3 linked regions of the Homo sapiens genome follow. The protein of the gene in region 2 purifies or fractionates together with the protein of the main gene of each other region. This does not show direct contact. Each region holds a gene or a part of one and is shown on either strand. Other genes may lie near its edges.

Evidence for each region.
Region 1: the proteins of DEFB116 (region 2) and INSRR purify together in Homo sapiens (affinity purification with mass spectrometry; one large-scale study listed by BioGRID and IntAct). This does not show direct contact.
Region 3: the proteins of DEFB116 (region 2) and HS6ST3 purify together in Homo sapiens (affinity purification with mass spectrometry; one large-scale study listed by BioGRID and IntAct). This does not show direct contact.

What each region holds. Positions count from the first base shown.
Region 1 is NC_000001.11:156,845,618-156,849,117, forward strand, and holds part of INSRR (insulin receptor-related protein precursor), read right to left. Parts: intron 3,431-3,500; coding exon 3,304-3,430; intron 1,141-3,303; coding exon 902-1,140; intron 503-901; coding exon 335-502; intron 198-334; coding exon 2-197; intron 1-1. UniProt on the Homo sapiens protein: Receptor with tyrosine-protein kinase activity. Functions as a pH sensing receptor which is activated by increased extracellular pH. Activates an intracellular signaling pathway that involves IRS1 and AKT1/PKB.
Region 2 is NC_000020.11:31,305,768-31,310,192, reverse strand, and holds the start of DEFB116 (beta-defensin 116 precursor), read left to right. Parts: upstream 1-1,607; coding exon 1,608-1,674; intron 1,675-4,425. UniProt on the Homo sapiens protein: Has antibacterial activity.
Region 3 is NC_000013.11:96,088,561-96,092,967, forward strand, and holds the start of HS6ST3 (heparan-sulfate 6-O-sulfotransferase 3), read left to right. Parts: upstream 1-1,546; 5' UTR 1,547-2,302; coding exon 2,303-3,009; intron 3,010-4,407. UniProt on the Homo sapiens protein: 6-O-sulfation enzyme which catalyzes the transfer of sulfate from 3'-phosphoadenosine 5'-phosphosulfate (PAPS) to position 6 of the N-sulfoglucosamine residue (GlcNS) of heparan sulfate.

The sequences.
Region 1 (3,500 bases), on a different chromosome or scaffold from region 2:
CATGGGGATGGTGATCGCGTTGTGTAGAAAGTTTTCAAACTTCTTCTGGAACGAGGCCTCTTGCGCCTCCAGCGGGGGCAGAACCTGACCAGGAGGTGGGTGCTGGCAAGGGCAGCAGTCGGACTCCATCTCGGCCTCAGGATCCCCGTCTTCGCCGTCGAAGCGCGGATCGTTGTTGCTGGTGGGCAGCCGCAAGCCTGGCGCCGCAGCGGGAAGACACTAGTAAGACAGGCGGTCTACCCGCCTCTGATCCCCCCCACCTGCCGGGGCCCTGCGCCTCCATCTCCCCTTCCCCACCCGCCCCGCGGCCGGCCTGCGCGTCGTCCCTGCGCACCGCGGTGGCAGTAGTCATTGAGGTAGAGGTCGCCGTCCTCTGCCAGCCGCTGCCACAGCACCAGGTAGTAGGTGAGGTTCCCATTGCGCTGGGTCGGTGGCTTCCAGCGCACCAGGAGGTGGGAGGAGGAGTTGGACGTGGAGATGACGTCTTGGGGCACCGTGGGAGCTAGGAGTGCGAGAAGGATGCAACTCAGGGGTGTGGGTCTTCCTCCTGAATACTATCTAGTAATGAGCCCTCCTTTCTGGGGTCCAACAGCCTTGTTCTCCCAAAGAATAGGTGATCCTCACCCCTGGCTTCCTAGAACTCAGTGTTTTGTTTCTGTCCTCCCCTTCTCTGCCATAGGCCCTTCAGTTCCCTCAGCTATTGACCCCGGACTGTCCCAATCCCAGCCCCGCAAGGACCTAGGCAAATGCTCCCCCTTCTTTCTAGGACTCAAGCATCTGGCCTTCCAGCCTCTGTGGGCCAGGTGTTCAGTGCCCCGGCTTCTCTATTTCTGGTGCCTGTGCTCCCCTGTTCTCATGGATGCAGGCGTCTGACTGACTCTTGCACCCTCCAAATGCCTACCTGCAGGCAGCGTTCGGAGGTAGACGATGGGACTCTGGGCTCCTTGATGAGGGCTGTCCTCCTCAGTGGTTAGCGTGATGGCCCGCACAAACACTGCGTACTGTGTCCAAGGCTTGAGGGAGGCTAGGGTCACCCCTGGCTCCTGGGTGCGGCTTAGGGGCAGCTCCACATCCAGCAGGTTCCAGCTCTGGGTTCCACAAGCATCTGGACCCACGTGCTCTGTGGCGTTCTGGAATGGGCTGAACACCCATCCCCAGAGCTGAGGGGTCATTCAACCCCACCCTCAAGTTCTGGCACCCCCGCTCTGAATCACCCCAGGACTGTCATTGTCCTTCCAGTATGCATGAGGGCAAAGCCATGACTCCAGCCACCTGTTAGACCTTGGCAAGGGGGGGCGGAGGAGGGGAGGGACTGTGATATCTGTGTCAGTGAAATTTGTAATGATATAGCTCCTCATCCTTAGCAGGGAATATCAAGTTCTAGTTTCAATGAATATTGAAAAAATCTTGCATTGAATAAATAAAACAAGAAAGTGTGTGTGAAAGAGTCCCCTCTCCTAGAAACAGCAAGCAATAAGGTTATCCTAATTCCCCTAAGTCTAATTGCCTGGAACGAGGAACAGGAGACTGCTCCCTTCCCAGTGTCTTCACTTAGGCCCTTGAATTGACTTTGGAGGTTTATGAGCCTCCCAAACTATAGCAAAGTTTTGTGCATGTGTGTTTTTCTAGAGAGAGTGTTCCTAGCTTCAACAGCTTCTCAAACATGTCCATGACCCTAAAAGGCCAAGACCCACTGCCACAGGGAAATTAAGGGGCCAGAGGCAACTAGTGCTGGCTGCCTGAAGGCCAGTTTCGGGGCAGGGCTTGGGGAAGCATCACTGGCTTTAGGGGTAGAAGAGGGCTCCCTGGGGGAGATGACAGTGGGCCCCCCATGGGAGATAGCAGAACAGACCATGGGAGACAATGGAACATCACATTGATGTTCATGATAATTTGTTTCTTTGGACTGGGAAGGGGATGATGGAATTCATGCTGAGCCAGGGACAAAACTTGAGGGAGGTCAAATTGGGTGGCAGTGGGGGAACTTGTGGCCCAGCGGGAAGTGCCTGCCTTTGTTGGGACCTATAAGCAGGATAGTCCAGGAGCAGGTTGGGGGGGTGGGGGCTCATAGTGGGTGTCATGGGAGCAGGTGTCCTGTGAGGCATGACACACTGAGCAGGTCTGGGTCTGTTTGGAGTCAGGATTGGGCAGGATCTGCAGTGTGTGTCTCTGAGGGAGCATAGCTGCAGCCACGCTGCAGGGCAGTGATGTTAGGGAAGCTTGTTGAAGGGTTCCCAAGGTTCTCTGCTCTTTGAGCCCAGAGACAGCTGTGTATAGTTGTGCAGATTGTGAAGTGCACAAGCCGGGGAGCTGGGGGAGATTCACACTGTAGTCATGCCAGGGCTCCTTAGAGTGCAGTCCACAAACCAGCAGCTTCAGCATCTCCTAGGAGCTTATTAGACATGTGAATTCTTGGGCCCTGCTCAGGATTAACTGAATCAGAATCAGTGGGGGGCGAGGCCCAGGAATCTGTATTTAACAAACTCTCCAGCTGCCCACGCTGGAGACCTTCACCTACCACTGAGACCTAGGAGGGTCTCGGCCATTTGAGTGGGTCTCCTACAACTGACTTCCTTCCTTTCTCCTCCCAAGCCAGACCCTGAGCCAGTGGTCAGCTAAGTCCTCTCCATTTTAATTCACAGGAAATGCTTCTAAGCCAGGTGGCCTCCATCTTCTATAATATCTACCAGAGAGAGAGAGCATGAACTCCTTACTCCTGCCTTCCCAGCCTGCATCTGAAATCCACTTCCCTCCTCTAAGGATATCTCCTTTTGATTCCTAACCGTGTTTTTGGAGAAGTCTTTCCTGTGGTCTAACCACTATCCTCATTGTTAGGGTCAGTTGACTCTCTCCAAAGAAAAGAGCAGCTGTGGTCCCTGGCGGCCCCTGCTCCCTCCCTTCCTAAGGCTTAAATGAAATGCTGGCAGAGCTGCTCATAAAACTGGCCAAATTAGTGGGCGCTCCCCAAACCGCTGCTGGGGCAGGAGCGTGTGGTCAGTGTAGAACATTAGCATAATGAAGTGAAGTTTAATGATCCAAGCCTTCCCAGCAGGATGGCTCTCCTGGGCTCTCAGAAGCCCTGTCTTCTCCATTTCACTTGGTGAGGGGAAACCGAGGCATGAAGGCATGAAGAAGGTGAGGGAAGAGAGCCAGACCTGGGCCCTACCACGGAGTACAACTTGCGGGTCCTGGCTTCCTGGGTCTTCATAGCCTCGCTGAGCTCCGCCCTCACCTGCCTGTGGTCCCGAAGAAATTGGCCTCGTCCGGTCCCGCCCCCGCTCCGGCCCCGCCCCCGGCACTCACGACTCCTTGTAGTACACGATGAAGCTGAGCAGGTCGCGGGCCTCCAGTGGCTCATAGCGCTCCCAGCGTAGCAGGATGCGGTCTGCCTCCGTCACGTTGGACACGAAGCGCAGGGTGCGAGTCTGGCCTGGGTGGGGCGAGGGGCCTGCTCGCAACCGCGCCTGCCAGCTGCTTGAGCGCCCACCCTGACCCCGCGG
Region 2 (4,425 bases):
CTAATACTGTAAAGATGATAAGTCACTAATATATTGAGTATAAAACAAAATACAAAACTATTAATAATAAGTTACAATAATCTGATAAGGGATACACACAATATAAACAGTAAATTGTGACATCAGAAACATAAATTATCAGGAGAGATACAATAAAAATGTAGAATCATATTTTGCAACCAAAGTTAAGTGGTTATCAGCTTTAAACAGCCGGTTATAACAACATATGTTTTGTGTAACCCTTATAGTAATCACAAAGCAAAAACTGACAGTAGATACACAAAGGATAAGAAGAAAGGAATCAAAGCATTCTAATATAGAAAATAATCTAATCACAAAGGAAGATAGCAAAAGAGGAAGAAAGGAACAAAGGATGTATAAAATAACCAGAAAAGAATGAACAAAATGGCAAAAGTAAATCCTTACCTATCAATACTTACTTTGAATGTAAATGGATTCAGTTTGCCAATTGAAGGAGTGGCTGAATTGATTTTTTTAAATGACTCAACTGTATTTTGCTTACAAGAGACTCATTTCAGTTTTAAGGAAACACATAGGCTGAAAGTTAAGTGATGGAAAAAGATGTTCCATGGAAAAAGAAACCAGAAAAGAGCAGGAACAGCTTTTCTTACAACAGAAAAAATAGACTTTAGGTAAAAAACCACAAAGTGAGACAAAGAAGGTCATTATATAATAATAAAGGGATCAATTAATTGAGAGATCAGCATGTCCATCACCTCAAATATTTATTATTTATTTGTGATGAGGTCATTTAAAAATCTTTCTTTTAGCTCTTTACATTATTATTAACTATAGATACTGGAGTACTATTCAGCCTTTAAAAAACAGAAAATTCTGTTATTTGCAATCATATGAATGAACCTAGAAGACACTATGTGAAGTGAAATAAAGCAGGCACAGAGAGACACATACCATATGATCTCACTTAGATGTGGAATCTAAAAAAATTGAACTCATAGACGTAGAGATTAGCATGGTTGTTACCAGAGCCTCGAGGGAGGGTGGATGGGGAAAGGGGAGACATTGGTCAATGGGTACAAACTTTCGGTTAGATAGGAGGAATAAGTTCTGGTGTTCTGTGGGCACAGCATGGTGACTACAGTTAAAAATAATTATTTATTTCTTTTTTTACAATTATACTTTAAGTGCTGGGGTACATGTGCAGAACGTGCAGGTTTGTTACATAGGTATACACGTGCCTCACATAGGTATACACGTGCTTATTTCTTATCTAATTGTTTATAAGTTTTTTCAAGTTTGCTTGCTTGCTTGGTTGATTCATTCATTCAAATTCGTTTCACACAAAATGCCAACTGGCTCTAATTTGTCTTTATTTCTTAATGGGAAGAAAGGCCCACACAGACATGAGCACTGCTGGCAAGTCTCCCACGCTTACACAGAGTATCCAGCTCAGATAAGTGATACATGTTGTCCTTCTTCCTGCCTGACATCAGGTATCTCCCATCCCTTTTAGTTCACTGCACAGAACCCTGACGCATTTCCAAAACTAATAAAGGCGGGCTACTGCTCTGCTACAGTGATCTCTGTTTGGTCACCTGCAACACAGCCCTTCATTCTGGTGGAACATGTCAGTCATGAAGCCCTGTTTAATGACCATTGCCATCCTTATGATCCTGGCTCAAAAGACTCCAGGTAACTCAGGCCTCTCTCAAAGGTTCTGGCGTCTTGCATGTGGTACTGGTATCTTGGTGACCTCTGCAGTGACTCCTACTCACATATAGTGGGCAACACCTAAAGCCTTTTCTGGTCTCAGGTGGGTCACAGATGTTATTCCCAAGGTTAATTTCATGTAAAGATCTCCCCTGGTTCTGCTCTGCCAAGACAAATTGAAGAGGTTGTTGATCCTGGCATAGTGGACAGTCTAAGCATGGAACATTTTAGGTAGTGCTGTCATTGGGATGGGGGCTTAATTCATGAGTTAGGTGTGAGAGACTGTGTGCAAGTTGAGGAGCTATAGGAGGGGTATAGCAGTTTGGAGTTGGGTAGGGAGTTGAGGTGGGGAGGTTGTAAGACCTTAGAGATAGGGTAATATCCAAAAAGTGAGTGGGGATGAGCATGGGGTGAATAATTGTATTTATAGGTTGGGCTGAATAGATGTTTTGGTGCATTCTAGAGAGGAAATGGTATTTTTTCTTGAATGGAGCTGGGGTAGAGTTGGTGCAACTGGGAGTTGGGGTATAGAGAGGTTTGTAGCTGGGTTGTGTTTTAGATTGATGCTGTGAATGGGGTTGGGTGGCTTGGATAGTGTTATGTTTGTATGTTTTGCAGTTGGGCTTTTGGTGGTTATTAGAAGAGGTAGGGCTTGAGTTGTAGTTAGTGTTTGCCTAAAGTGGGTATCTTATTCAGTCATGGGTATGTGAGGTTTATCTGGGCAGGGATTGACTTAGCCTGGGTTTGGGGGTGATTAAGCTTGAGTAAGACAGTTGAATTCATCACAGCAGGGTTGTGGCTATTGAAATAAGGAGAATATTGACTCCTTCTCAGATATATGATTTGCAAATATTTTCTCCCATTCCATAGGTTGTTTCTTCATTTTGTAGACTGTTTCCTTTGCTGTGCAGAAACTTTCTAGATTGCTGCAATCCCCTTGTTTATTTTTGCTTTTGTTGCCTGTGCTTTGGTGTCATATCCAGAAAATCCTTCCCAAGGCCAACGTCAAGAAGCTTTTTCTCTATGTTTTCTCCTAGGAGTTTTATAGTTTCAGGTCTTAGATTTAAGTCTTTAATCCATTTTGAATTTGTTTTTGTGTATGGTGTAAGATAAATATCCAATTTTATTATTTTGCATCTAGATACCTAGTTTTCCCAATACATTTATTGAAGAGACTATACTGTCATGAATATGTCCTAGAAATCTACTGTACAACACAGTTCCTATAGTTAACGGTACTGTGTTGGATATTTCAAAAATTACCAAGGGAGTGGATTTTATGTTAAGTGTTCTTAAAATAAGATTTGATGTACCAAAAATAATAAATAAGATGGTGGGAGAAAACTTTTAGGCGTGGATAGGTTTATGGCATAGATTGTGATGATGGTTTCATGGGTGTAATGTATGCTTATCTCCAAACTCATCAAAATGTATAAATTAAATATGTATAGCTTTTTGTGTGCCAATTGTACTTCAACAAAGTGATTTAAATAAGGAAATGGGGAGAATAAACACTGGATGAAAAATATCCAGTATTATTTTCAAATTCTGAAGAAAGTTTCTTAAGTGTGATTTTCAAGGGCACTGAAGAACAATAGATGTGACTGTAGATGGCTGAGATAGAGGAAGTCAGGAGACTGGAATGTTTGGAATTGTCTCCTGTCAAATCTTGGCATGTACAGAGAGATATGGGAGCAGTCTCAGCCCACCCTATAGAAAACCAAGATTGTTCTTCCTTCCTCGATAGTGAGTTCAGATTCATCTGATCTAGAGGTTTCTCCTCCTCTTCCTCTTTCTTCTCTGTTTTTCTTCTTCTTTTCCTCCTCTCTTTTCTCATATTCCTTCTATTTCACATTCTCATGCCTCCTTATTTCTCAGCTTCTTTTATTCCTTTGCTCAAGAGACATTTGTTCTCATGCTCAGTAAAGCTCAGTTCTCATTTCTAATGGTGGTAGAAAACACAAGTGGGTTTGCAAGAAACACAAACAACAACAAAAATGAAGACAGCACTCTATGCTTCAAGAGTTGTACATAGTGTAGCTTCCTTAATAATTATTGAGTACTTTTACTTGGCAGAATTTATGAGCAGGAACAGTTCTGGACAACATTTTCTATTAGGACAATCCAAACAAATTTTTCCTTTTATCCTCCCAAATGTATGCATATGAAATTAAACTGTTTGAAAGCCAAGACTTTGTCTTTTAAATCTACACATTTCTGATGTTGAGCTGAGTGTGTTGAATAGAGTAGGCTTTAGCAAATACTTATTGAATGAATGAATATGTAATGAATCATGGCTAATAAACATATATGAGTAGAAATAACCTTAGAGATTGGATGGGAGAGGATCATGTTTGGTTGCACAGCAGGCAGAGAAATAATATATCACATTGATTTTGGCTTGGGATGGAATTTTTAAAAAGGTCCAGAGGATACCTTTTGTTTTTTGACTTAAGACAGTTTAATTTGCTTTCAATACACTTCCAATGTGGAAAAATGAGCTGGGCAATGTCTATAGCTGAATGTGAGAAGGCTAGGCAGAATCGTGGCTTTCACTGCAAACAGGAGCCCATTAGTATTTTCTGGGGAACTCTTGCAAAGCACCCTTGCTCTGGCCTCTCCTTAGATATACTGAATCAGAAATTCTAGAGACTTAGTATGAATATACGTAAAAATATGCCAGGTTATTATGAAGTATGACATCTTATTAACCTCTTTTTTACACAAACACAG
Region 3 (4,407 bases), on a different chromosome or scaffold from region 2:
GATATAAAAAGGTATAATGATGTTTTACTTAACTAAAGCAGAGGTATGTGTATATTAAGCAGACACATTCAGAAAATAATTGTTGGGCTTTTGTTTTATCACAGTTTCTTGCTGTGGAGTGGGGTGTGATGCCATTAATAGGATTTCAAACTTAAGTGAGAGAAAAAGAAATAGAATCAAATAAGCTTTAAAGAAGCTGATTCATCTCACCCAACACCTTTTCTACTGATATAGCCTCCTACATATTAGGAAAGGCAAGGGTTGGAGTTGTTTAAAGAGTTGAAAACGGGAAAGGAAATAGAGGAGGGAAGTTTTATTGAGAAGAATTCCACCTGTCTAAACAAGGAAAATAGTATCCTATGGGCAAACTTTAGCATCCCTGAAAGAGCCCTGGATCTTCACTGATGGCTGCAGAGGGGACACCCTGATAAATAGATGACATCGACAGAGTGTCTCAGGAAGAAACAAGTGCATGGATTCATAAAAAGGCCAGATGGGACGGTGGGCTGCTATGAAATATTATAGCACACCTGTGGAATACGGTAGTGTAGCTGGGAGGGACACATTGGTCTGGGCCAGGGAATCACACTGCATTGTCCTCACACATTGCCTTTAACACATTGCCACTCTCCACTCGGAAAATAGGTCGAGCAGGTCTAGGGACTGTGGTAGGGCAGTTACAACAATTTGATCGTATATCTTTTCACTATCTGAAAAACAGAAGTTGTTATTGAGCAAAGATTTAGTTCTGGGGTAATACTAAATGCAACATCTAGATGTTTGAAAAATAAAGTTTCCAAAAAACATCTGCATACAAATTAGGGCTTATGAAATATAGGCAAGCTTAAGTGTTATCTTCCACCATTGTTGGGAAGGAATAAATCTTGAACATTTAGGAGTTCAACGTCTATTAGTAGAATGATTTTTTTAGGAGGTGATCCCTAAACTCCTTTTTATGTTCTAAGTACTGCATGGTTGAGGGCTGGACTGTCTAGTGCTGAAAGAAAGTGTGTATTGAACATAGAGCCTGATACACAGTTAGGCGCTTAATGGTTAATTGATGCTGGTTGAATACAGTTGTATAGTTGGACGCACCAAGTTTGTTATTAAGGGAGGACCACCATAAAACTCGAACACCAGTTAGAATGTCTTGGGTAGAAATTCACAGCAGTCTGGAGCCACGTTCCCCTGCTGAGAAGGGAACTGCCAACCCGTGTAAAGTCTGGTCTAGTGAGTGTTCCCGGGAGTGTGCAGGTGTTATTCCTGAAAATAAGGCCGGCCACTACCAGACAGAGAAGCTGCCCATTTTAAGGTGTCAGATCAACGCCAGCGACGCTTACCTCGGGGCCTCCTCTCGCCCCACCTTTGCCTTTCTGCCAAATCTCTCCTTGCTCCCGGCCGAAGGGATTCCCACCCCCAGCTGCCTCCTCCGAGCCCCGCGGAGCAGCGGACTCCTCCCCTGGAAACTCCTCCGGGGCTGGGGGAGGCTTTGGCGCATGCTCCGTACCTAGGGCAGGTTTTTGCTGCGGGTAGCAGGGCTCCTGTCACACCGGCTGGCGGGTTGTGGCGGTGCCAGCCTGTGTGTGCGAGTGTGTCTGCGTGCCTGCGCCTGGGCGGACAGCCCGGAGCGGCAGTGCGACTCGCCGGGAGAGGCGTCTCCGCAGAGGCGCCTCGCCCGCTGCCGCTGCGCTGCGGGGGCCGCTCTGCAAACTTGCGGCGAGCGCCGTCAGCCCTCGCGGCTCCACAGCCCCGCGACCTGCCGGCAAAGGCGCCGGGCGCGCGTGCCGGGCGCGGTGCCCGCGGCCGGCCGGGGCGGCGGGAGCGGGCCGCGCCTTCGCCCTTGGCCGGCGCCCTGGCGAGCCTCATGCAGCCCCGGCGCTCGCGGCCGCAGCTACCCGGCTGCCCGGCTGCGCGCGGCAGGTCCAGGACCCGAACCCCGCTCCCCAGCGCCTGAGCGCCTGCAAGCCGCCGGCGGGATGCCGCGCGTCGCCTGAGAGAGCCGCGCCGGGGCGGGAGCAGGGAGCGGGCCGGCCCGGGCGCACCCGGGAGCGCAGGGCGCCCCACGCCGCAGCCGCAGCCGAGCGCGCCGGCGCCCGCCTCCCCCGCCCGGCTCGCAGGCCCCGGCTCCTCAAGCCCCGAGGGCCGCGGGGCCGCCAGCCAGCCACACGCCTCGGCGTCAGGGGCATGGAGGAACGGCGGGCTCCGAGCCGCGCCCCGGAGTCCGCGAAACTTCCGAGCGGGCGCCCGTCCGCCCTGCCGCCGCCGCCGCCGCCGCTTCGCCTGCCGGCCTGAGAGCGGGACCATGGATGAAAGGTTCAACAAGTGGCTGCTGACGCCGGTGCTCACTCTCCTCTTCGTGGTCATCATGTACCAGTACGTGTCCCCCTCCTGCACCAGCTCCTGCACCAACTTCGGGGAGCAGCCCCGCGCGGGGGAGGCCGGCCCGCCCGCCGTCCCGGGTCCCGCCCGCCGGGCTCAGGCGCCGCCGGAGGAGTGGGAGCGGCGGCCCCAGTTGCCCCCGCCGCCCCGGGGGCCCCCCGAGGGACCTCGGGGGGCCGCGGCGCCGGAGGAGGAGGACGAGGAGCCCGGAGACCCCCGGGAGGGGGAGGAAGAGGAGGAGGAAGACGAGCCGGACCCCGAGGCCCCGGAAAACGGCTCCCTGCCCCGATTCGTGCCGCGCTTCAACTTCAGCCTGAAGGACCTGACCCGCTTCGTGGATTTCAACATCAAAGGGCGCGACGTGATCGTGTTCCTCCACATCCAGAAGACGGGGGGCACCACTTTCGGCCGGCACCTGGTGAAGAACATCCGGCTGGAGCAGCCTTGTAGCTGCAAAGCGGGTCAGAAGAAGTGCACCTGCCACCGGCCTGGCAAGAAGGAGACGTGGCTCTTCTCCCGCTTCTCCACCGGCTGGAGCTGCGGGCTGCACGCCGACTGGACGGAGCTCACCAACTGCGTGCCGGCCATCATGGAGAAGAAGGACTGTCCCCGCAACCACAGCCACACCAGGTACTGTCGCCCGCTGGGTCTCTGTTCTTCCCCCCCACCCCCCATCCCTCTTCCTCAGTCCTGACCCAGAGCGACCCCGCGCTCCCTGCCCCTGCCGATGGTTTCCTGGCGTCTTCAGCGGTTGGCGCCGTGGCTTTGGGGAGGGATGAGAAACCTCCGGATAGTGCCTAGGTCCTGAACTCGTTCTTCCCCCAGCCCCCACCGCTTCCCGCCACCCCTCTGCCTTCACCCTCTAAGATGTGCGGAGCCACCGTGTGGATCCTGCCTGTTGCCTAGCACGGCCTGGCCTCCCTCCCAGTGGACGCTGGAAAAACGCCCTGAAATGGGGAGCGGATCGCGGTCTGGGTTAGACCAGCCTTGTAGAATTGTGAACTTAAGTTTTGGGAGTGTAAACCCAAACCCAGGAAAAGGAAGGGGGAGTAGAGAGGCAAGGCACGAGTTTTCCAGGCGTGGTGAAGCTGGAGACGAGTATAATCCCTCCCTAAGTGGCTTTTGGATGGCAGCTCAGGAAACAGTCAATCCTCTTGATGCCACTTTGAAGACACACGTGCAAATTCCTGTTCTACCGCGATAGATAACTCTAATTCTGGAGATGGTCTTTGTTGCCCAGCAGTGCCAGGATTTGGACTCACCTGTCCTCAGAAAGATTTCCATGCTCTTCCTAGGCCATTACATCAACTTATTCCAAAAGTATGTTAAATGCCTACAGGGTGCCTGACAGTGTGCTAGGTGTTAAGTGAGTATAAAGATAACATAACATCCCTTGTTTTCAGGATGGAATGACATTCTTGATCCCCTGCCTCCCAGCCTTAAAAAACAGTAATACAGTGGAGAATTAAGAAAGTTAAAAATCTTAATAGCCAATGAAACTGCTTACATTATTAACATGCTTTGAGAGAGACATGGGCTTAATAATTTGGTTGAAGGTCCTTTCTGCCCATTGCAATTTGAAGATTAATCTGACATGCTTGCTAAAGGACGAAAATATTAAAAGCTTGGAACACTAGTTCATTGAAGTTTTTATCTTAAAGGTTTCAAACAATTTGGTATGAGGAAATAGGAATTTAAAAGCTCAAGCTGATTATGTTGATATCCCAGATAGCTTTTGCATTTGACGTTATAGAAAAGCTTCATTTACTGGAAGCTACCCAGATTCTGGAATTCACCACCACTGAAGCATCTAATTCTACTTCATTTCTCCAAGAATGAGCAAAATTTCATTATGAGATTTTTTACTCTGGCAATTCTTCAGATACTTTCCTTCCTCCCTGCTCCTTTTCCTGTTTCCTGCACATTAGTTAGAATAAGAAACTGGATTTGGAATGAGGGAATTAGGCTCTTCTCTTAGTATATTTTACGGATCCTTTGCTTTTAAATATTTTTAATAGTGTATTACTT